2 separate regions of the Homo sapiens genome follow, and region 2 is linked to region 1. The links come from fine-mapping of genetic effects on gene expression. A gene starts in region 1. The other region holds a variant in brackets. All regions are shown on one strand. Distances are from middle to middle.

What was found. PIP is the estimated chance that this variant, and not a neighbour inherited with it, causes the effect.
Region 2: its variant is fine-mapped to the expression of CXCL12 in sigmoid colon (GTEx, PIP 0.99).

Annotation. Positions count from the first base shown.
Region 1 is chr10:44,380,664-44,388,663 of GRCh38, reverse strand. CXCL12 (C-X-C motif chemokine ligand 12) reads left to right here and starts at 3,567. Exons shown (of 3, transcript NM_199168.4): 1 at 3,567-3,719; 2 at 7,784-7,901. The coding sequence starts at 3,659. RefSeq lists a silencer at 1,829-2,038 and enhancers at 3,932-4,623, 4,624-5,317, 5,318-6,011.
Region 2 is chr10:44,689,702-44,706,669 of GRCh38, reverse strand. No RefSeq gene overlaps it. Among named protein-coding and RNA genes, the nearest start is that of TMEM72, 210 kb to the left of the region's middle. The variant G/A (reference allele first, on the strand shown) is at 7,571.

The DNA.
Region 1 (8,000 bases):
GTGATTTTATGTTTCAGCACTTTGGAGCCAAATACTTATTTCAAGAGGGGGATTGCGGTGGGAGGGTGTCAAGTAATACAAAAAATATTCTTCATGTAGAAAAGGTTTTCAAATTTCAGATCTATTTGTATTGCTGTCAAAATTTTTGCTATGTCTCCAGCCACCTAGACTAGCACTTGCTATGTTAGCTTCAATTGACTTACTTTTTAAAACTTGAACCATATATTAAAAAAAAAACCTGAGCAATATCTGAAATATCTGCCTTTACTGTGCTAGTTATATTTTTTCTTATTACTTTAAAAAAATAAATACATAAATCTATATTTTATAGATTTCAGAGTACCACCTGAAGTCACCTTGTCAATTACACACTGTACAACATGGATTTAGTGTAAACCTTCAATCCCTACTGGGAACCCTCTTGCAGGCCCAGCCGTTGGGCCCTGGAGGAGTGAACGGCCCAGGCCAGGCAGAGGGGGGTAGGCAGATGCTGCCTAGGGGTCTAGAGACCATAGCACACATGCCAGCTCAGGAGATGCCCTGCCTTTAACTCAGCAGCCAGACCCCTGCCTCCCACCTTGAACTGTGCTTAACAAGGCATCCCTGAGGAGCCGCTGTGCCCTGCATTACCTGGTAGAGCGGCACAGAGTCTGAAGACTTCAGGAGAAGGTGGGGCTCTATGGGGAGTAAGAGTCCCCAGGCAGAGAAAGAAAGGTGGAGCCTTTTGAGCATAAGCATAAGCAAAGGACACAGGGAAAGGGGTGGGGAACTTCGCTGACCCGAATTTGAGAGGTACCCCTGTGGCCGAGTGAGCTGGAGACATGTCAAAATGGCCTGGTCTGATGGCCGCCTGCCTGTGCAGGCGGTGCGGAGGCCCCCAGAGTGTACAGGGTTTTATTTTATTTTATTTACATATTTACATATTTATTTATTTATTTACATATTTGTTTATTTATTTATTTTTGAGACGGAGTCTCGCTTTGTCACCCAGGCTGGAGTGCAGTGGCGCCATCTCGGCTCACTGCAAGCTCCGCCTCCCGGGTTCACGCCATTTTCCTGCCTCAGCCTCCCGAGTAGCTGGGACTACAGGCGCCCGCCACCACGGCCGGCTAATTTTTTTGTATTTTTAGTAGAGACGGGGTTTCACCGTGTTAGCCAGGATGGTCTCGAACTCCTGACCTCGTGATCCGCCCGCCTCGGCCTTCCAAAGTGCTGGGATTACAGGCATGAGCCACCGTGCCCGGCCAGGGTTTTAAATTTCAATCGCCAATTGTAAAATTGTGAGGCTTGTACCTAAAATATGGATCCTTGGCCACCCTATTTAAAATCCTAACTCCCACCCCACTTTCCTCTGCTCCATCTTCCCCTAGCATTTAATGGCCTTCTAAGTATTTTATGCGTAATTACTTATGCTTAGCGCCATGTGCTTCTAAACGTTTAGTGCCTTTTCTAAACTACTTCAAACATGTAGCCCAGGTCTAGCACATAGTGGGTGCTCAGTAAGTATTTAACGAACGACTAGCGGAAGGGATGGCCCCATGGGTGCCACAGTAGCTTCTGTTCTGGGGCCTCAGGGCGCCTGCGGGAGGGGCAGCGGCCAGGCCTGAATCCCTGGTTCGCCCTCGACTCAGCCCACGCGGGCCTTTCAGGCTTCTGGGACAGATCCTAGGTCCAGCTGCCCACCTGATTTTGTGGCAAAGAAAAAAAGAAGAAGAAGAAGCGAGAGGCGATGGCGTTTGCTTTGGCCAGATTTAAGGGCAAGCGAGGCTGCGCGCGGCTCCCGCAGGGTCGGATCTCCGAGCTCCAGGGCGCCCCTCCACCCGGGTGTAGATTTCCCGCGGACCCCTTCGCCCTCCCGGGTTTCATCAGCTGCGCAGGAATGGAGCTGGCCAGAGCTCTGGGAGCGGGGAGGGAGGCGCCGCCACCAGAGGGCGCCGGAGCCCCAGCGCTGCGGCCGGTGAGCGGCCAGGCTCCCCGGCCCAGCCCAGCAAAGGCCTGGGGACGCCCGACGGCTGCCTTCTTCACTGGACCTCACTGCCTTCAGTTCTTTAAGAGCAGGGCCAAGTCAGTGGGGTTCCCGGCTCCAAGCCCAGTGCCCAGGGTGGGTGGGTGGGTGGGTGGGTGGGTGGATGGATGGATGGATGGATGGATGGAGTGCCGGCCCACAGCCATCTAACGGCCAAAGTGGTTTTGGAAAAAAAATGCACAGAAGACACCTACTCCCACCAGCGGAGTTCCGGAGCCCTCGCAGCCTCCTGTTGACCGCTCCCGCCTAATGCAGCCGCTGACCGCCCACTCCCCGACGGCCAGGACTCCCCAGGGACAGGGACGTGTCCCCAGGGCAGGCCCCTGGATGGACGCGGCGACTGACCCCACTTCGCTGGACGCTGTGCTGGGAAGGACACAGAGAGGTGGCTGGGGCAGCCTGCGGTCACAAAGCGAGGCCCAAAGGGGCGCTCTCCTCACCCCCACGTCTCCTGGGTGCCGACCTGCACCCTCCCTTCGCCACCGGACTGGGGCCATCTGGGATGTCTCGGGGGTATCCGGAGGGCTAAGCACCGCCGAGGGACGGCTCCGTGGGAAGAGTTTTCTGGACCCAGAAGGCAGACGCCAGTAGTACTGTCCTAGGAGTCGGAGGTCGGGGTGGGGGAGTTCTCAGCTCTTTGGGTCGCACGGAGCTTTTCTTGGGTAAGGCAGTAAGTACTTAGGTTTAAAGGACTTACTTACAGCTACCATTTATTGAGTACTGTCTGCTTGTCAGACACGATGCAGAGAATTTCGCGGCGTGGGGCGGGTCTCATTGAATCTCCCGTCCCACTCCGCGGGGTGGGCCTGTGATTAGCTCATTTCACCATTGAGAGGTCGGAAGTACAAAGGCTACATTCGCTTTTACTGAGAGCCGCCGGCGCCTTCTGCTTTGTTTGTACAGGCGAGGAAACTGAGGCTCGGCTGGTGGCGCCGTGGGCTTGGAGTCCGAGCCACGCTGACTGCAAAGACGGGTCTCATTCCCGCAGATCGAGCTCTGCCGGCGGCTGCGCCGCAAGCCGGGCAGGTGGCGAGCTTGAGCCCCCACGCACAGAAAGCAGGACCCCCTCGGCTGCCTTGGGCCGCCACCGCCAGCAGGCCCTCCGCCCGGGACTAACTTGTTTGCTTTTCATTGGTTCTCATTCAGTTCCCGCCATCGAAAGGCCCCGTCCCGCAGCTTTCCACGCGCGCCCCACTTTACGCCTAAGGTCCTCAGTCTCTCCAGTGGGGCCCTGTCACAGGGACAATAAGCGGCCCTCCAGCCGGCGTCGCTCAGGCTGCGGACCTCACTGCAGACCGGGCCAGCGGTGCGGGGCCCAGCGGAGCCTGAGAAGGTCAAAGGCCGGAGCGCACTGCGCCTCGGGAGCACAGAGGGAGCGGAGGAGGGGCGAAGGGGATGGGTGGGGGGTGCCGCCGAGGGAGTCGCGCGTCAGAGACCCCGGCCACGGCCAGCACTCGGCTCCGGGCCCGCCCCTCACCGCGCGCCCCGCCCCGCCCCGCCTGGCTCTCCCCTCTAAAGCGCCCGGCGCGCGCCTCCCACCGCCGCACTTTCACTCTCCGTCAGCCGCATTGCCCGCTCGGCGTCCGGCCCCCGACCCGCGCTCGTCCGCCCGCCCGCCCGCCCGCCCGCGCCATGAACGCCAAGGTCGTGGTCGTGCTGGTCCTCGTGCTGACCGCGCTCTGCCTCAGCGACGGTAAGTGCGCTCGGCGGGGAGGCCCTGGCGAGGCTCTGGGCTTCGGCTCCCGCCCGGCGCAGAGCCGCGGCTCCTCTGCCTGCGCCCGCAGTTTGCGCCGCCCGACACAGTGGGGGTGGAGGCAGCTCGCTTAGCTGGGCGCTCTGGTGCGGTGTCGCGTTCAAAGCCCTACTTTTGCGCCGAGGGTTTGTGACCTGCAGAGAGCGACCGCCTGACCTCAAGCTGGCTGCAGAGCGAGGTCAGCCGGGACAACTGGGCAGGAACGCCCCAAGAGAGCGTTCGGGACTGGCGCGGGAAGGCGCGAGGGTGGGGAGCCGCGGACCCCAGACCCCTGCCTGCCCACCCTCCACCCACTGCCTTCCCGCTGCGGGCTCGGTTTCCACAGGCGAATGGGCTCCGAGGTCCTGCTGCGCACAGTGCTGGAGGTCGGGCGGTGCATGGCGAGAGCGCGCTTTGCAAAGTTCGCCTCATGCCGCGACTTGAGGCTGTGAGGTCCGATGCAGCCGCGCAGCCTCCGCTCCCTGCGAAGCCGATCCTCTCCCCACACCCTCGCGGGGCTCTTGGCCAGGCGCGGGCGGGCTGCGCGGCGCAGCTGTCGGGCTTGTGCCACCCGCCAGGCCGCGCTTCTGCACAGCTCCGCGGTCCGCAGCGACGCGGACCTGGGCGCGCGTCCAGCCGCTGTCTTCCTGTCTCTTCTCGGGTTCACCTGAGAGAGGCCCAGGGACCCTCCGAGCCTCACACGCCCCCTCCCCAGCTCCCCAAACACACCTGCAGACAGGCTCTTTTGTCACCAGCTGGCCAAGCGCTTTGCCCCAGAATGAGAGCTGCAGCAAAGTTCAATCTCCAAGGCCCTGGGCCACTGGGAACCGTGGTGTCCCGTTTCACTGGGAGAGGGCTTTTTTCTTTTCTTTCGCTGAAGAGAAACTCGCTGCGCTGTCACAGGACACCGATGCAAACCAAAATAAACTGTTGCCTCTGAACACACAAAACAAAACCCTGTGGCTCAGGCCGCTGAGCTTCCTTGGCTGTGAAGTTTCCTGCAAAGAGTTGAAGGACACTCTGAGTGCTCTTGCAGCCGCGGGCTGTGCAGGCCCAGCGCGCCTCGAGCCCTTGGCTGGGTTGGTGCAGACGTGGCCCCGGCGTCCTAGCTGGCTTGGACTGTGCGCTGGTGTGAGCAGGACCAGCGCAGCTGAGTCGGGCTGGAGAAGCTGGGCAGCCTGGGGTCGTGGCGGACTGCCTAAGTGTTAAGGACACAGACTGAAGGCAATTGGGAATGTTCGTCGTTGATGAAAAGTCCCTGAGGCTGTGTCTGCACACTGACCCCCCCCCCCCCCCGCAAGTCATGGGGCATGTTTCTAGTTTTTATTGCTGGATATTCTTCTGTTCCTGTAAGGTCTCTGGTTTGGGCAGTTATTGACTGATTGGTGGGATGAGCGCGGAGGTGTCACAGTGCGCCGCTCTGGGAAATGGTGCTGCCCCCTCCCCGGAGGGCTGGAGAGAGGATTGGAATGAGGAACCTCGGTCTTTGAGTTATGGGTGCAACTGACCTGGGGGAAGCACAGAGACGTGGGGTTCATCCCAGACTCCTCCTGGCCTGGGAAGGGTGACATGGCCCTCAGAGTTGCCCCATTGGCAGCCAAGTAACCAGGGCAGGAGCCTGGGCTCCAGGCAGATCTGCTCCTTACACACATCGCCAGAATGTTTTGTTTTGTTTTGTTTTCCCCTCACCTCACAGTGCCTATGTGCCCCCTATCCCCACACTTAGTCCTCAAGCTGCACTACAGAGAGAGCTTGGCCAGGGGTCCTGCCCCTCCCCCATTGGCTGACTTCCGTCAGGCAGCTGGGCCCTTGGGTTTCCCGGGCTTAAACTCAGGGTGGGCCCCCTTCCCAAGCCTGCTTGGAGGGGCCAGCTGGGCTCCTGTCTCTGCATTAGACTGGAGGGCTTTCTGAAAACTCCTGGAGCCAAGCTCACCCGGTCCCAAATCCGGGGTACCATCAGAGCCAGTCAGGACTCTTGCCGGTACACGGATTTACATCCAGAACGGTTGGGAAAGTTAGTCTTACTGACAAAAAGCTGGAGGAAGGAGCACATGAGGTACACACGAGACCATGTTCTTTTGGTAAGCACACCTGGGGGCTCTGTCACTTTAAAAAGACCTGTTGAAATTCGCTGCTTGACAGGCGGGCCTTAGGTCCTGGGAGTAGAAGCAAGAATTGCTTTTGAAGGAAATGGATAATCCCAGGGGGTGGAGGGGGAGAGGAGAGAGAGCCTGTGTGTTGAGCTCTGAATAGGCTCTGATTTCTGGCCTCATCACCACTGCTTGGTTGGGGGGCCAGAGGAGCTTCTCTCCTCTGGGCGCTGGAGAGTCACAGCCCCACCCATCCCAGCGGGGGCGGCTGCAGCACTTGCCCTTGGCTGCATATCTTCAAGCTCACTGTTGCCGGGAGGGGGCTTGTGCCTCACTACCGGCCTCCTATTCTCCTGCTCCACCCCCAACCCACCCCCTGCCTCAGCTTGGAAGGGCCCAAAAGAAATCCAGGGAAACCTGGAGGCACAACACTCAGGAGCGTTTAGCTCCTCAGTTACCCAGGCTGCAGGCCCCGGCCCTGGGGGTGGCTTTCCCAGGTGATCTGGTTACAGTGCAGTGCTGACTTCCCCTGCAGGGTCCCAGTGCAGCTGCTGGAAGCTGGCCCCAGAGGTGCCTTTCTGGAGTTAGATCAGGTGTAACTGTGAAGGCTGCCTTAGGTCTCTCCAGTGCCATGAGTCACCAGCACCCTGATGCTTGGCTTTTTCCTGGTTTTCAGGGAGTTGCATTTGGTCCTGGGGACAAGGAAGTGGGGGGACAAGTGGTCCACTTTTCCTGCAACTTGGTGGCTGAATACACAATGCAATTCCTAGTCCACATCATCCCTCAATTGATTGCAGTCTGTAGAAAAAATAAAATAAAATGAGCCCCTTACTCAAGATTTCCTCCTACTTCCCCAGCATTCTTTCCCAAAGGTGCAGAATTTCAGAACCACAGAGGTCTCTCAGAACTTTGTAAACAGGCAAACTTAAAAAAAAAGAAAAAAGAAAAAAAATCTCTGGACCAAATATTCTTAGACATATATTTAATCTCTGATGAAAGGATCCACAAGTTCAAATAATTTGGGGTATTAAGTGGGGCTTGGATAAAATCTTCAAGGAAAAAAGAAAAACAAAAAGCACACACAAATCCCAGCCCTCCAGGGCTTGCAATCCTATATTTAAAGGGTGAGCAGTGGGTTCTGCAGGAGCCCCTTGCTAATTTACACTAATGAGTGTCAATTATGGCATTTTGTAAATTGGTGATTTTGCAAAGATCTTAATACAATTCCTGAGGCTACAGCATCCCTGCCTAGGCAATGAAAACCACATTTAACTCCAGCTCCACTAATCTCTAAGCCTTGGGGAAAGTGCTGGGCAGAAGGTGGGTCCTTGGCCTGCTCTCAGGGGACTCACAGGTAGGAAGCCAGCCAGGATTCTTTTGTGCCTTCCAGAGCTTTAGGTGAATGTGAGGAGGGGTCTCTGGGGTGGGGGAGGGCAGCATTCCTGAGTACTACTGTGCTTCCTGGCTAGAGGCCTGTGCCAGAGGAGAGAGGCCAGGGAGCCTGGAGCCTCTTGTCCCCCTTTCTTTTCCCTGAGTAGGGAGATCTTTCTCAGTTGTCCCTTGAGGAATTTTTTTTACAAAGAGTAACTGGAAATTTCAGTACCTTGGACTGAAACCGTTATCTACTATAATTACTACCTTTATCTTGAGACACTGAGCAGGTGGCTTCTAATTTAAACTCCCGCCTCATCTAGGCTCCGGCTCTCCCCAGGCCTGTTGGGCTCCTTGCCCTGTAGAAGCTGAGCCTGAGCTCAGCCAGCACTCACTGTGTTGCCTGAGGAGATGGCCTTTCCCAACATACACCAGTAACCTGGAACTTACCCCAGTGATGCCGTCTCTTGATCCTTAATCGCTGCACCAACTGCTGCAGCCCAGACACACATTACCAAAATCTGGCAGGGTAGTAAAGTGCCTTGTTGTCCTTACCTCTTCTAGGGAAGCCCGTCAGCCTGAGCTACAGATGCCCATGCCGATTCTTCGAAAGCCATGTTGCCAGAGCCAACGTCAAGCATCTCAAAATTCTCAACACTCCAAACTGTGCCCTTCAGATTGTGTAAGTCTTGAAATTGAACATCATCTAACGAACATAGTTGCATCTAACGAACATAGTAACATCTAACCCGAGTCTTATTAAAGGTGTAGAGGTGACAAG
Region 2 (16,968 bases), 310 kb before region 1:
GTCCTATTGAAACCTATCTCTCCCAGTCCACTGACACATCATCTGAACCACTGATGGGGGTTGCCAGCCTTCTACATTTTCCCTCCTCAACATTGCTGGGAGTATCTTGGAGATGTTTCTGATAAGCTCATGACCAAGTTCCCTCCCTCTGGGTGAGACCGCTGCTTCTCCGGTACCTCATTTCTCAGCTGCCACTAGTTGAGTACCAAAAAGCTCCTGCCTCGAGGAGAAAACTCTGGCTCTTTGGAGCTTAGCGTTCCCTGAGACTTTGACATGATGCTCCCACTTCTCCTTGGGTCACCATAGTCCTCCTGCTCTATCTGGTATAATAATTTCCTCCCAGGGATGTTAAGACTATGCCAAGAATCACCAAGCTGTGGAGGCCTGGACTACAGAGGTGCATTTCTCTGTGCGTGCAGGGGTATGGCAGGCACCGGGCTGTGACACTCTGGCAACAGACCTGTGTTTTATGTAGCATCGCTTCTCCCCTGTGTTCAAAAAGGAGCTCCTGACCTGTCCCTGGGTCAACTTTGGAAAAGTTCTCTTCCAGGATTCTTTCCCCTTACAGAAAACATTAAGTCATCCCAACTTATGCAAGACATGTTGCACCTTCATAACCGACATGGGTTCTATTATAGTTCAAGGATCCTTTTTTGCTCCCATGGAAATAAACTTCTGTTGGTCCCATCAGTTTAGTTTGCTGAGCAGTAGGAGATACGTGAATCTGAAAGTCAGGCTACAATGCCCAAATGTGAAAATTATAATGTAGAATAAAATACAAAAGTTTTGCCTTAAAATGTGTGTATCAAGAATGGTGGGTAGCAAATTATGGTAACTGAGAGTGGTGCTGAAGCCCTAAGTTTTGGTCTCATTCTCACCTAAGTAAGAACCTGATCAAAAGAGGGGAACGTTTAAACAAAATTATGGGATGCCATTGTTTTGAACTGAGCTTGTACACTAAGCCCCAACAGACCAGAGAAAGTCAAAACAAAGTTTCATGCTAAATGCCACATAATCAAATGGAAACTTTAAGAAAGCAGATAGGTCCTAAAACAGACCAGGTTTTGTATTTTTCGTGTACACAGGAGATTCCAGCACAAGGAGGCCCCCTCTACTGTAACCAAAAAAAGAAGAAAAGAAAAAAGCCTGAATTCCTCGTTCCCACCTTACAAAACATACTCCTCTTCAATTTCCTAGTAGGATTTAGGACCAAATAAGTACATTTACAATGGAGACAGAGTGATTTCAATGCCTAAAGTTTTGGTCAACCTCTTAAAATTGGGAGGTTGATCAAAAGTAGGAAACTATTAAATTAAGTTTAGTCTGAAGCTGCCTCTTTACATTTTTCAGTTTGGCTTAAGTGTTTCTCTGTACATAGTGCACTGTATATGAATGAATGGTGTGTGGTAAGAGGAGCTCTGCCAACCTTCTCCTCATTGAAATTTAACTGGTGAAAATTATAAAAACAAAATAATTAATGTGGTGAAACCCCATCTCTACTAAAAATAAAAAAATTATATGGGCATGGTGGTAGGCGCCTGTAATTGCAGCTACTTGGGAGGCTGAGGCAGGAGAATCGCTTGAACCTGGGAGACAGAGGTTGCAGTGAGGAAAGATTGCACCATTGCTCTCCAGCCTGGGTGACAAGAGCAAAACTCTATCTCAAAAAACAAAACAAATCAAAACAAAAAACAATTTCATCTCTAAAAATTGTCTCAATGGCATGCAGCAAATGGAAAAACATTTACTTGAGAAAATCTAATACATCTTGATAAAAATAGCAAGAGACTGACATTTGAGCCATGAACTGCTCCCATGTCCAGCCCGCACTCAGCTTCTTGTGAAAAAAGCTCTACCCTAGGGACTTTACTCCAGATGTGTTTAGCCAAGAAGGCATAGGATCCCTCTTCTTCCAGTTTCCAGTCTATGGCTTTGACTTCATGCAGAGAGAGGCAGAATACCAGCTTTCCTCATACCCCTCTTCTTGCAGGAGGTCTACTTTGGGTGGATGTGGCTAAAAGGACTAGCATTCACTTCTTTCACCCAGTTCCCATTCATATAAAAGAAGCTCTACCCTAGGTATGGCAAGTCAAAATGTTGGGACTACTTTTGTCCATGACCTTTCAATGGATGAAGATTCCACAGCAGTAGGGGCAATCCTAGAAGACCATGGGCTACCATCTCTGACCAGTGACCACTCGCAGAGCAGGATATTCCTTTGGGAAAAATGGACTATTGTTCTTGCCCGTATGTCCCACCGGTGACACAGGGATTCCATAGAGCAGAAGAGGCAAGCCTCAAGCATGGATAGCTACACAGTTGTTCCTGAGAGGACTGATTTTGTTTGGAAAAGAGTGCAGAGAATTTTATGCCTAAGGGTGTTGTCAAAAACAATGGAGATCTTTGTGGAGAGCCACTAAGAGGGGACTGGTAGTTCCATGAGACTTGTAACAAGTGAAAAAGCAGAACAGCCAAGAGTCTAACAGAGAGAACCCGGAAAAGAAAGAGTGTAGAAAGATCCTCCTGGGATCGAGGTCAAATCTAGGTGTTGGCAAGGCTATTCCTGTAGATTAGTCTGCATTCAGTTGGAAAAAATTAGAGTAGGGAATGGGACAGAAACAGTACCCAAGTCACACACAAATTCATCAAAAAGGGGCGGATGCTTCCCTGGCACATGACACGTAAGCACATACTCTGACCAAAAACTGACTTAAGAAAAAGCTCTTCTGTTCCAGAGGAGACTCCTATAAAGCCAACCTTAAACAGAAAATCACATTTACCTTTTGAAGTCTGGAAGACTCTGTGCATTCCAAGGCCATGTCCTCTCAGGATTAATTGAGGAGGAATATTTTAAACTATTAGTTCCTACTTGACCTTGGGAAAAAATTGTAACTTTCCTGAACCGTGAAAGCAATTTCCAAGCTAAATATACATCCACGGCAATGGGTAAAAATTTAATGACTAATGGGGGCTTGAGCACAACCTTTGACCAATAAGCAGCTTAATGTGGACCCAGGGGTGACCACTAGGCTAAATGAAAAAACTAGGGAAAAATTTATGAGGATAGACAACAGAGGCTGCATAATGTAAGGCTAGAGGAAGAATAAACTTCACAGGTTTAATTTAGACAAATCACTAAAAATCAACAAATGACTAGTGGGAGAGGGAACAAGCCTGGGTGTGGGTGTGACAGGAATGTAATCAGTTGGAATTTCTACAATGTATTGTCTAAAATGTCCAGTTGGAAACAAAAAATTTACAAGATATGCAAAGAAACAGGAATGTGTGACTCATAGTAAAAAAAAAAAAAATAGTCAGTAGAGGGAACTAAATAAAATAAAGTAAAAATTGTTTTGAGGGAACACAAGTGTTGGGCTTAGTATACAAAGACGTAAACTAGCTATTATAATATATTCAAAGCACCAAAATAAATTGTTTAGAAAAAAATAAAGAAAATTATGGTGACGATATCTCATCACACAGAGAATATCAACAAAGAAATAGAAGTTATGAAAAAAGAATCAAATGGGCTTTCTGAAATTGAAAAATAAAATAATTGAAATGAGAAATTTACGAGAGGAACTCATCAGTACATTTTAAACTGGTACAATCAGGAATAAGTGAATTTGAAGATAGAGCAATAAAGATTATGCAATCTGAAGAACACAAAGGAAAAAGGATAAAGAAAAACAGAGTCTCAAATAAATCTGACACCATTAGGCACAGCAATATATGTGTAATGAAATTACCATAAGGAAAGGAGAAATAGAATTATAGAAATTAAAAACATAATGGCTGAAAACTTTTCAAGTTTGGTGGAAAACATTAATCAGCACATCTAAGAAGTTCAACAAACAAAAAGTTGGATACACGCAGATATATTTGCCCAGACATATCATAGTTGAAATCTGAAAGCCATATATGAAGAGAAAACCTCAAAGGCATCAAGAGAAAAATGACTCATCATGCACAAAGGTACCCCAGTAAGATTAACAGCTGACTTCTTATCAGAAATAACAAAGAGCAGAAAACAGTGGGGTGATATATTCAAAGTGTCTAAAGGAAAAACAACATAAACAACAAAAATTCCCTCTGTCTTATACCCAGCAAAACCAAAAGCTATCTTTCAAAAATGATGTCCAAATAGACATTCTACAATAAACCAAAAGTGAGATAATTCATTGCTAGCAGGCTTTTCTTAAGCGTAATTCTTCAGACTGAATATAAGTGACACCAGACAGTAAATAAATTTCACATTTTAAAAAATGAATGCTGATAAAGGTAAATATAAAGACAATATAAGGATATATTTCCTTTTTAAAAACTGATTTTAAAAGTAATTGCATCAAATAATATGTATAAATTTATATAGTTCTTCCTATAATATATTGATGGTAACAGCCCAAAGAAGACAGTGGGAGCAAAACTGTATGGAGAAAGGAAACGATACTAGATGGTAACTCAAATCCACAGAAATAATTTAAGAGAGCCAAAAATGCAATTAAAATTTAATAAAACAAACTTTCTAAATGTATACTTTATCTCCTTGTTTTCTTTCAGCTTATTTAAAAGACATAAGATTACATAAAGTAACAATTATGGCAGTGTATTTTTGTGTTTGTTACCTGTATAGATGTTAGATGTGCAGTAATCATAACCAAAAATAGTAGCGGAGGGGGATGTGGCTACATATGAATACAACTTTTATATATTACTGGAATTAAGCTAATACATATTTGAAGCAGACTCTGATAAGTTAAGATGTATATTGTAGGCCCTAGAGCAACTATTAAGAAAATAACTGAAAGATATAATAAAATCTCATTATTGGAATTAGTTATAATAGATACTACAAAAAGAAGGTGGTAAATGAAAAACAGGGGTCTTTAAAAATCATGTGGCATATGCTACACTTGATGGTAGTCAAAAGGTCAAGAAGCAATTCATGTGACATATAGAAAATGAAAAGCTAAATGGCAGAGGTAAATCCAACCATATCACTAATACAATATTAAATATGAATGGATTAAACAATCCAACAAAAAGGAAGAGATTTTGACACTGGATTAAAAAAATTAAACCAAGACACAAGTATATGCTGTCTACAGAGAGGCACTTAGATTCAATAATACAAACAAGTTAAAGTAAAAGGATAGAAGAGTATGTAGAATGCAAATAGCAAACATGAAAGAGCCAGAGTGGTTATAATAATATCAGAGAGGATAGACCTTAAAATTAAAAAGTTACTAGAGATACAGCATGGCAGGGATACTGACAAAAGTTCAATCCCTCAGGAAGATACATATAATATAAATATATACACACCCAACAAAAGATCTACAAAATACATGAAGCAAAACTCGGCAGAATTTATGGAAAAATAAAAAATTCAACCATAATAATTTGAAACTTTAATATCCCACTTTGAATAATGAATAGAACAACTAGTGATGATAAACAAGGGTACAGAAGACTTGAACAACTATAAAACAACTAGGTCCTGCAGACATGTATAAAACCCTCTACCTGATGAGAGCAGAATACACTTTCTTCTCAAGCTCTCATGGACCATTCTCCTGCATGTGGAGCCATAAAATCAGCCTCGATAAGTTAAAAAAATTGAGATCATGCAAAGCATTCTCTCAGACTGTAGTGAAATAAAATTAGAAATCAACAAGAGAAGGAAATTTGGGAAATTTTATAACATGTAGGATTAAACAGCACACTCTCAAAATAACCAGTTTGTCAAATAAGTCACAAAGGAAGTTAGAAAAGCCCTGAGCTGGTAAGTTGGTAAATCCTTGTCCAATGAGAGGAATCCTTTAAAGGCTCAATGGAGGAATGGGAAACAGGTCTTACCCCAGGAAAGCAAATGCATCAGAATAGAACAGAAAGGGGTCTCCCTGGGGCTCATACTGGGCAACTGCACATGTTCCTGGTTTGTGCAAAGAGCTGTCTTCAGAAAAATGGTGGAAAGAGAGGAACAGGAACAGGACTTCAGGAGAAGTTTGCACACAGCAAAACCATCCCTGTGGAAGTGGTAGGCAGGTAACCCGGCTCCTACCATACTTCCTCCTGCCTCCTCCCCTGGGGCTGGCTCTGTAAAGAGTCTCTTCTAAGCCACCAACCTGAGCTCATGTATGACTTCTCCTGCCTTTAATTTCATACAAATGTACAACTTTGTTGGCTTTTCTCAAGTCAAGTTACATCTTCTGTTATCAATGGGAAACAATGTGCCTTTTCTGTAGCTAACTGATGCAAATCTAGCTCAGAATGGGGGTGGGAGATGGGGAGACAGGTGCTGGGCACAGTTAAGGGCAGCCCAGCTATCTAGAACCTTTCTCTGGACTTCCTTCAGGGTTTTGCAGCCTTGGCACTATTGGCATCTAGGCAAGATAATTATTTGTTGCAGGAGGTCTTGCCTGTGCATTGCAGGATAGTTAGCATCATCCATGGTCTTTACCCACTACTTTCTAGCAGCACCCAAATTCCCCATTGTGACAACCAAAAAGGTCTCCAGACATGAACACATGTTTCCTTGGGGGCAAGATTGCCCCCAGGTGAAGAGCACTGGCGGCTTTACTGTCAGACTAACCTGGGTTCAATTCCCTCAGCACCCCTCAGCAGCAGCATGTTCCTGAGTCTGTTTCCCCCTCTGTAGAGTAATAATGTTACTGTTGACCTCCTTGTGTTGTCTGGTGATGAAATGAGTAAGTATATGTGAAGCACCCCATTCATGAAGGCACTTGGGGTGCCTCCCGTTACCTCACCCCCCACTCTGCATCACAGCCACCTCTATTCCCCTGATCTATTCCCCCAGACCTGCCTACTCCAGCCTTTCCTAGGCAGCCTGGACATTGGGCTGGGAATCTTGGGGTCATGAAATGTACGAGCTGGAAGGAGTTACGCAGGGTTCATCTAGGTAACTCCTTTATTGTTCAGGTGGAGACAGGAATCCGAGGAGGGAGCAACCATTCCACCTACAGGACAGTGCAGGGCAGACAAAGTTTGTCAACAGCTTCCTGCTGTCTGGATGGGAGTCTCTTTGACTCAGTCCTCTCCTTTTTTATACCGAGCATCCCACTGTATTCTCCCAGGAGCCCTGAGCTGTAAGGAAACAGAGTAGGGATGAATGTCGCTATTTTATAGGGGAGGAAACCGTGGCCCAGAGAACTCAGGCCATCTCTCTAAATCACACAACCGGTTAGTGACAGAACCAGGACAAAACTCAACTCTACTGGCCCCTAACTCTATTCCCTTTCCTGTATACCTGCAGAAAGAAGAAGTGTCAATTTTAAGCCTGAGGCAGGGCATGTACGAGAGAGACATTGGATCAGACAGCCTTATCATAAAATAATAATTCTGCAACACTTGCTCATTAGAATCATCAAGGTAGATGAAAACAAAAAAAAGAACACCTACAGTAGTTTATCCATATACTAGAATGTTCCATGCTGGGAATCTAGATGTGCAGCAGAGACAGGTACTTCTGGTGAAGACACCTCTGCCTGCATATGCAGGTAGCCCTTGAACATCACACAGAGAGAGTGTTCACCCCAGGGCTCTCATG[G/A]AGGGAAGCCTGCCAGTACCTGCACGCCCGCCTCCTCTGGATCTCTCTTTCCTGGCAGAAGTGATAGGCAGTAACAGTGACTGGGCCCCAGAGCTCCCCTCTCACACAGTTACTGGGTATAAGAACTAGTGAAAGCTCAGGAAAATAATTTTCTTTCTACCCCAAACAATCTTTGTAAGAAAATGAATTGCCATATGCAATTGATGTTTTTAAATATCTTTTTATTGTTTGGGTTGAATTTTTTTTCCTTTTGAATGCAGGGTCTTAAGTAATGAAAGAGTGAAAGTTAATTTTCCTCTTCTTCCCATGGGATGTTCAGTGAGGCTTTGAATTCAGGTCCTGGACTCCTTTTCCCCAATCCAAGTTAGCAGTTTTTGCACTTGGAAGATGTGGGAACATGGGGCCACATTCCCCCAAGAAATAGACGAGCTGCTTCCAAGGCTGGATGCCTCCCCAAACATCCAACTTCTCGCTGGTTCTGCAGGCAAGCTCCATGTGCTCCCACCCTGCGGTTTCAGTCCGTTACATTTTCTGTTCGATCTGTGTAAGCATTTGGATCAGTGGCTGCTTACCCAAAAGAATGTGTCTGAATGGTCTCAAAAGTGGAAAAAATGAAAGATTTTGTGCTTCAAGGATAAAAGATAGATGTGGCAAACCATGGGAGGGAGTTGGACTCCAAAAGATGAAGGACAAAGGGACTGCCAGTTCAAAATATCAGGGCCAGGAACTTAGATGTCTGGACACTGAGCCCTGCAGTGTTGTTAAGAGAGCAGCCACTGAGGCTGGCCTGGCAGGTGACCAGTGAAGGGGATCTACACCGGAGAACCAGACATGAGCATCTCTATGGCAGAGGAATGAATGGTTGACCAGAAAGTAGAGGTCCATCCCCAAACAATGCCAGGGAGGATAGAGTGATCTTACCAACAAAATGACCAAGACTAAGGGATCTCCCAGATTCAACTGGACATAGGCAATTATACAAAAATTATGGTTTCTTATGGCTAAGTGTCAGACAGCAATTCCTATGGTTCATCACATAAAACCACAAAACCATTCCCAGCATTTTGCCAATACTTTTATTTTATTTAATTATTTTTAGACAGAGTCTCACTCTGTTGCCCAGGCTGGAGTGCAGTGGTGTGATCTCTGCTCACTGCAACCTCCGCCTCCCAGGCTCAAGCGATTCTCCTGCCTCAGCCTCCCGAGTAGCTGGGATGCCCGGCCACCATGCCTGGCTAACTTTTTTGTGTTTTTAGTAGAGACAGGGTTTCACCATGTTGGCCAGGCTGGTTTCGAACTCCTGACCTCAAGTGATCCACCCACCTTGGCCTCCCAAAGTGCTAGGATTACAGGTGTGAGCCACTACACCCGGCTGTTTTACCAAGACTTTTGACCCATGTTATTTCATTTGATCTCAAACATAGCTGGCTTCCTTGCAGTCAGGGAGTGCCTGTCATCTTAATGGGGGAGAAGCTGGATCCTGAGAACGATCAGGTAAGTACCTAGAGTTCTCATTTTTATTCTCATTTTACAAGTGAGAATTCTGACACTCAGGCAAAGTGACTTATCCAAAATCAAACAGCTCGTAAATGCTGAGGTTTGAAACCAAATCCAGTTGCTTTCCAAACCTGCTAAACAAATGCAGAAAATAACCATCTCCTACTTAAGGCTTCAGTTCAGCATTCATCAAAAGGCTGTGGGCTTGAGTCCAAACAAGCCCACTGATTTGCTCTGTGAGTTTGGGTCCAGCATATCCCTTCCATTAGAAAGGGCAGGCAAAGTGCTTACTTGTTTACAACGTGTCCACAGCAGGGAACATGGGAAGTGGTCAGAGAGCAAGCTTTGGTGGTGTGGAATCTTAGCTCTGTCACTTATTAACCATGCACTTTTCAGCACATTTTTCAAAATTTCAGAGATTCTGTTTCCTCAGCTGTAAAGGGCTCTAATAATACAATCTTATTAGTCTGCTATAAATATTATAAACAATGCTTTACAGCAGTTGGGACCCAGTACACACTCATTAAATAGCCTTATAGAAAGTAGTTGTTTTGTAACTTGAAGCCAGGAGCAGGGATAGTTTTCTAATTTTATTTTTTCCAGAAAGAGTTGGTAGCTCTTGGTTGTCAGTCGGACCATTGTAGAGCTCAGTCATTACATGTAGTCAAAGAAGAGGATCTGCGATGCATCCAGGGCCTGGGTCTCTGTGAAGCCACAGAAGGGGATTCTAAGTGAACCTGGGGACTGTTAACATTGACACCCGCTGAGGGATGTCCTCTGTGGTGAGCAAGCCTATTTAGAATGACGAAACCCGCAAAGCTTTGTTCGGCCCACAGTGCTTCATTAGGAAGAAAACATGACGACTTCATTTGAATGGAGGCTAATGGCTAACAGATGGTCTGGCAAGGCAAAGACCACAAAACACTGTCTCCAAAAATGTAGTTAGGTTTTGTAAACCCTGAATTCTGTTTTCACTTTACTCTCCAGTTTCTGTGAGTGTGAGCTGGGACCGAGGAAGATGGCTGAAAGGAAACAGAGCATGACCAGGGAATGTGTTTATGCTTCTGCAAAACTAAGTTATTTCCACTAGCTGCCCCCAGCAAGATAAAAATGAGATGTATGAGAAGAGAAAGAGGGCCAGGACACGGCCTTTGAAACTAATCTAAGAGGTATCTCTGTGGGGTGGGCTCTTGAAATCACTTCTGCTACAAGGTGATGACCCAATGAGAAAGAAAGGGAACACTTACTAAGCTAGTGTCTAAATACTCACTGTGCTAGATTTCACACACACAAACACACACACACAAACAAAACAAACAAAAATTTTATAATGTCAACCTCCTTCCAATCACACACACACACAATTTTGTCATGTCAACCTCTCTCCAATCTCTCACACACACACACATATCCCCAATTTTGTAATGTCAACCTCCTTCCCATTAGGGTAAATTCAGGCAATAGAGGGTTTTTGTTTGTTTGTTTTCCATTTTATTTGTTTTTTTGTTTTCAGCTTTTTTTTTTTTTTTGCAGGCACCAAAATACTGTTGAGCTCTGGGGCCAATCCTACTGGTTTGGAGGTAAACAGGGTTTAGAGCCTAGGAAATAAACAAAAATGACAGAAGACAGTGCACTCTGAGACTCCTAAATCTTCATAAAATTAATTATGGCTCAATTGCTTGAAAACTCATAAGTAAATGCAATTTTGTTTCTGGATTGATTGATGTAGCGACAAAACAGAGATAGCATAATGGGAACTGAATGTAGCAGCATAACAGTTTGTATTTATGGCATTGGCAGAAATTGTGGGGAGGGATTTGACTTCCACAGGCTGTGGAATTGAGGTTTTAAATTAAGTAGAATAAAGCTGACATATTTTATTTCATTAAAATTGACAAAAATACATATCTTGACTATTGTGAGTAATGTGGCAATAAACAATAAATGGGGTTAGAGATTATTAGTCCTATGTTATTAAGAAACTGAAGATTAAAAGAGTAAAAGAAAATAGAGTAAGTGGGAGAATCAGTATTTGAATCCAATTATTTTTCATTAGAAAATTTATGACTCACCAGAGCCACCAAACTACCTACTTTATTGGTTGGGAAAATTGCCGCATTGGAAGAGACATGACCACATGTGTGTAGTTTGTCCACATTATAGAAGATACCAAAACTGATTTGGTCTACCTCCTAAGCTGCTTTCCTTTGAATGCATTTTAAAAATTAACAAATATCTTAAAAAAATAACTCTGACATGTACCCATTGTAAAAATAAAACTAAAATAAACTTAAAAGCACAAAAATAAATGTTAAAAAATGCATCATGCAAAATCCCACACAGAGACAGTATTGTTATCAAAGTTTGATGAATTTCATTAATGTCCTTTTCTTATACAAACTAGATACTGATAAGCTATCAATCTAAATTAGCTGTATAGATAGGATTTTATAACACTGATATAAAAGTTAAAGCCAGAGCAATTAGTCAAGATAAATAAATAAATGAAAAAGGAGAAGTCAAAATGTCCCTGTTTGCAGATAACATAATCTTACATATTGAAAAGCCTAAAGACTACCGAAAAACTCTAAGGACTCATAAACGAATTCAGTAAAGTTGCAGGACACAACATTAACGTACAAAAATCAGTATCATTTCCATACCCAAATAACAATTTCTTTCATGAAAAAGAAATCAAGAGGGTAATCCCACTTACAATAGTTACCCCAAAATGGCTATTATCAAAAACACAAAAAATAACAAATGCTGGTGAGAATACAGAGAAAGGGGACCCCTATACACTACTGGTGGGAGCCTAAACTCATACAGCCCCTACCACAGAAAACAGTATGGAAGTCCTTCAAAAAACTACAAATAGAACTACCACATGATCCAGCAATCCCACTACTGAGAATTTATCTGAAGGAGGGAAATCGTTATATCTGAGAGGCATCTGCACCCCCAAGTTTATTGCCTCATTATTCACAATAGTCAAGATATGGAATCAACCTAGGTGTCCAACAACAGATGAATTGATAAAGAAAATGAGATGTATATACACTATGGAATACTATTCAGCCATTAAAAATAAAATCCTGACATTTGAGGCAACATGGATGGAATGGGAGGACATTATGTTGGGTAAAAAAAAACCAGGAACAAAAAAATTAAACTTCGCATGTTCTCACTCAGATGTGGCAGTTAAAAAAAGTAGATTTCATAGAAGCAAAAAGTAGAACAGAGCATACTAGAGGCTGGGAAGGAGAGGGAGACAGGGAGAGATTTATTAAATGATACAAAAATACAGTTATGTAAGAGGAATACGTTCTAGTGTTTTATACCACTGTAGGATGACTAGACTTATCAATAGTACACTATAAAGCTTCAAATAGCTAGAAAGAGGATAGTGATGTTCCTAGCACAAAGAAATGATAAAGGTTTGAGATGATACGTATGTTAATTACCCTGATCTAACAACTGTACATTATTATGTATTAAAACATCATTATGTACCCCATGAACATGTGCAATTATTGTCAATTAAAAGATAAAATAAAAATTTAAAAATACTTTAAATATATTAATTATGAAAATATAGATTAATCTGAGATTTAATGCAATTTTGTTAAAAAGCCCAAACAGAATTTATTACAGATTTGATAAGCTCCTTCTGAAATTTATAGACAAGAGCATATAGTGAAGAGAATAAAGTAAAAAATGTACTTTACCAAAAATAAAGACTTCTTTTTTTTAATTATACTTTAAATTTTAGGGTACATGTGCACAACGTGCAGGTTAGTGACATATGTATACATGTGCCATGTTGGTGTGCTGCACCCATTAACTCGTCATTTAACATTAGGTATATCTCCTAATGCTATCCCTCCCCCCTGCTCCCACCCCACAACAGGCCCCAGTGTGTGATGTTCCCGTTTCTGTGTCTATGTGTTCTCATTGTTCAATTCCCACCTATGAGTGAGAACATGCGGTGTTTGGTTTTCTGTCCTTGCAATAGTTTGCTGAGAATGATGGTTTCCAGCTTCATCCATGTCCCTACAAAGGACATGAACCCATCATTTTTTATGGCTGCATAGTATTCCATAGTGTATATGTGCCACATTTTCTTAATCCAGTCTATCATTGTTGGACATTTGGGTTGGTTCCAAGTCTTTGCTATTGGGAATAGTGCCGCAATAAACATACGTGTGCATGTGTCTTTATAGCAGCATGATTTATAATCCTTTGGGTATATACCCAGTAATGGGATTGCTGGGTCAGCCCCATGGTATTTCTAGTTCTAGATCCCTGAGGAATCGCCACACTGACTTCCACAATGGTTGAACTAGTTTACAGTCCCACCAACAGTGTAAAAGTGTTCCTATTTCTCCACATCCTCTCCAGCACTTTTTGTTTCCTGACTTTTCAATGATCGCCATTCTAACTGGGGTGAGATGGTATCTCATTGTGGTTTTGATTTGCATTTCTCTGATGGCCAGTGATGATGAGAATTTTTTCATATGTCTGTTGGCTGCATAAATGTCTTCTTTTGAGAAGTATCTGTTCGTATCCTTTGCCCACTTTTTGATAGGGTTGTTTGTTTTTTTCTTGTAAATTTGTTTGAGTTCATTGTAGATTCTGGATATTAGCCCTTTGTCAGATGAGTAGATTGCAAAAATTTTCTCCTATTCTGTAGGTTGCCTGTTCACTCTGATGGTAGTTTCTTTTGCTGTGCATAAGCTCTTTAGTTTAATTAGATCCCATTTGTCAATTTTGGCTTTTGTTGCCATTGCTTTTGGTGCTTTAGACATGAAGTCCTTGCCCATGCCTATGTCCTGAATGCTAATGCCTAGGTTTTCTTCTAGGGTTTTTATGGTTTTAGGTCTAACATTTAAGTCTTTAATCCATTTTGAATTAATTTTTGTATAAGGTGTAAGGAAGGGATCCAGTTTCAGCTTTCTACATATGGCTAGCCAGTTTTCCCAGCACCATTTATGAAATAGGGAATCATTTCCCCATTTCTTGTTGTTGTCAGGTTTGTCAAAGATCAGATGGTTGTAGATATGTGGCATTATTTCTGAGGCCTCTGTTCTGTTCCATTGGTCTATATCTCTGTTTTGGTACCAGTATCATGCTGTTTTGGTTACTGTAGCCTTGTAGTATAGTTTGAAGTCAGGTAGCATGATGCCTCCAGCTTTGTTCTTTTGGCTTAGGATTGACTTGGCAATGTGGGCTCTTTTTTGGTTCCATGTGAAATTTAAAGTAGTTTTTTCCAGTTCCGTGACGAAAGTCATTGGTAGCTTGATGGGGATGGCATTAAATCTATAAATGACCTAAGGCAGTATGGCCATTTTCACGATATTTATTCTTCCTACCCATGAGCATGGAATGTTCTTCCATTTGTTTGTATCCTCTTTTATTTCATTGAGCAGTGGTTTGTATTTCTCCTTGAAGAGGTCCTTCACGTCCCTTGTAAGTTGGATTCCTAGGTATTTTATTTTCTTTGAAGCAATTGTAAATGGGAGTTCACTCATGATTTGGCTCTCTGTTTGTCTGTTATTGGTGTATAAGAATGCTTGTGATTTTTGTACATTGATTTTGTATCCTGAGACTTTGCTGAAGTTGCCTATCAGCTTAAGGAGATTTTGGGCTGAGACAATGGGGTTTTCTAGATATACAATCATATCATCTGCAAACAGGGACAATTTGACTTCCTCTTTTCCTAATTGAATACCCTTTATTTCCTTCTCCTGCCTGATTGCCCTGGCCAGAACTTCCAACACTGTGTTGAATAGGAGTGGTGAGAGAGGGCATCCCTGTCTTGTGCCAGTTTTCAAAGGGAATGCTTCCAGTTTTTGCCCATTCAGTATGATATTGGCTGTGGGTTTGTAAGACTTCTAAAGAATTTAGCAAAATAGAGACCATGCCAATTTGGTCCAGAATTTTATACACAAACACAGAATGACTTATCCGTAAGGAAGAAATAAAACTAGAACCCACGTCATGCTGTATGCAGTAGTCACTTCCAAGTGGATTAAAACTTAAATAATTTGTTTAAAAGTAGTTTCAATTTGGAAGAAAATATGGGTGACTATATTTAACACCTGAGGTAGAGGGGGAAGGATTTCTTTTAGAAAACCACGAAGTTACAAGCCATCAAGGGAAATTTAGTAAATTTGCCTATGTTGTAATTGAAAACAGGTGAGACTTCTTGCTATGGCAAAGAGAATGGCAAATGTTTTGCCCCCAAAACCAAGTTTACAACTGAACAAAATTGTCAGAAACAAACATTTCAGGCCTCTGGAGGGTGACCAAAGCAAAAAACAAATGGAAAGATATTTTTAAATGAAGATGTGCTGGAACTTCTGCTAAAAGTGGTGGGAGGGTTGGATGCAATGGCTCACACCTGTAATCCCAGCACTTTAGGAGGCCGAGGCGGTGGATTGCTTGAGGTCAAGAGTTCGAGATCAGCCTGACCAACATGGTGAAACCCCGTCTCTACTAAAAATACACAAATTAGCCAGACCTGGTGGTGGGTGCCTGTAATCCCAGCTACTCAGGAGGCTGAGGCAGGATAATCACTTGAACCTGGGAGGTGGAGGTTGCAGTGAGCTGAGATCGTGACACTGCACTCCAGCCTGGGCAACAGAGCAAGACTCTGTCTGGAAAAAAACAAAACAAACAAACCAAAAAACCGAGTGGGAGTCTGAGGCTGCTTGCCAGGGTCTGCTCCCATTCCCTCTACCCCTAGCTCAGTTGCAGCAGTTTTACCAGGGTAGGGTTGGCCATGGAAACCAGCAATTTCGCTGCCAGAGGCAGCTCACTAAATTTGGAGTAGAGGGTGAAAACTCATGGCTGATGGTGTTTTCGGTAAAATTAGAAAACTAACTAGGAAAAAAGTGGGGGAAAACTTGTAACTCTGCTAGCCTAAGGTTGTTACTCTTGGTTGCAATGAGTGTCAAACCAGCCTGAAATTTAAGGGGAATACCTTAAAAATTAGAGAGTCATAGAAGGGTTAGATAAGCTCTATACACATCCTTGAAAGACTAGAAAACTATGCATGCACATGGGAGACCCTAGAGGGTCCAGGAGGATGTAAAAACTGGGGCAAAAGCCTGAGAACTGCCTGAGCTTTGAATGTGCTGCCCTTCCCACCCACAGACCCATGTACAGAGGTTGGAAGCGTTACACTCTACATGTCTCTAGGCATTTGAGCACAGTCTCTTCTTAATCATTGCTGATCCTTAAGTTATTCAGGCAACCCATAGGAAGCCATCATTGGTCACACATTGTCAAGGAGTCGGATCTATAGGTAAGTCCAGGCAAGTAATTAATAATAAACAAAAAAAAAAAAAAACGGAAAACTCTCAGACCAAAAACTTTCAGAATCCAGAATTGCTACAATATATTATGTAAAAGCTCCAATTTTCAACAACAACAAAATTATAAGATGTGAAAAAACAAGAAAGTGTGTCCCATGCTGAGGAAAAATTAAAAAAAAAACAAAAGCAGTCATTAGCAACTGACTCCAAGTGGTCCCCCATATTGCTTTGGGCAGGCAGACTTTCAGCTGCTATATGATAAAAGACAAAATAAATTTATGTTTACATAATTAATGGAAAATATGATAATAATAACTGTATAAATTTGACATCTCCATAAAGAAAGACAAATTATAAAAAAGAAGCAAGTGGAAATTCTAATAACTGACATGAAAATTCACAAACTCTTTAAACAGGGTATCTCTGTAAAAGTATAAATTATGGAAAAAGAAAAAAGAAGCAAATGGAAATTCTAGTAGCTGACATGAGAAACTCACTAAATGGTTTCAAAAGAATATTTGAAGTGAACTTCATGATTGGTAAATAGAAATTATCTGATGTAAAAAGTGAAGAGAAAAATAC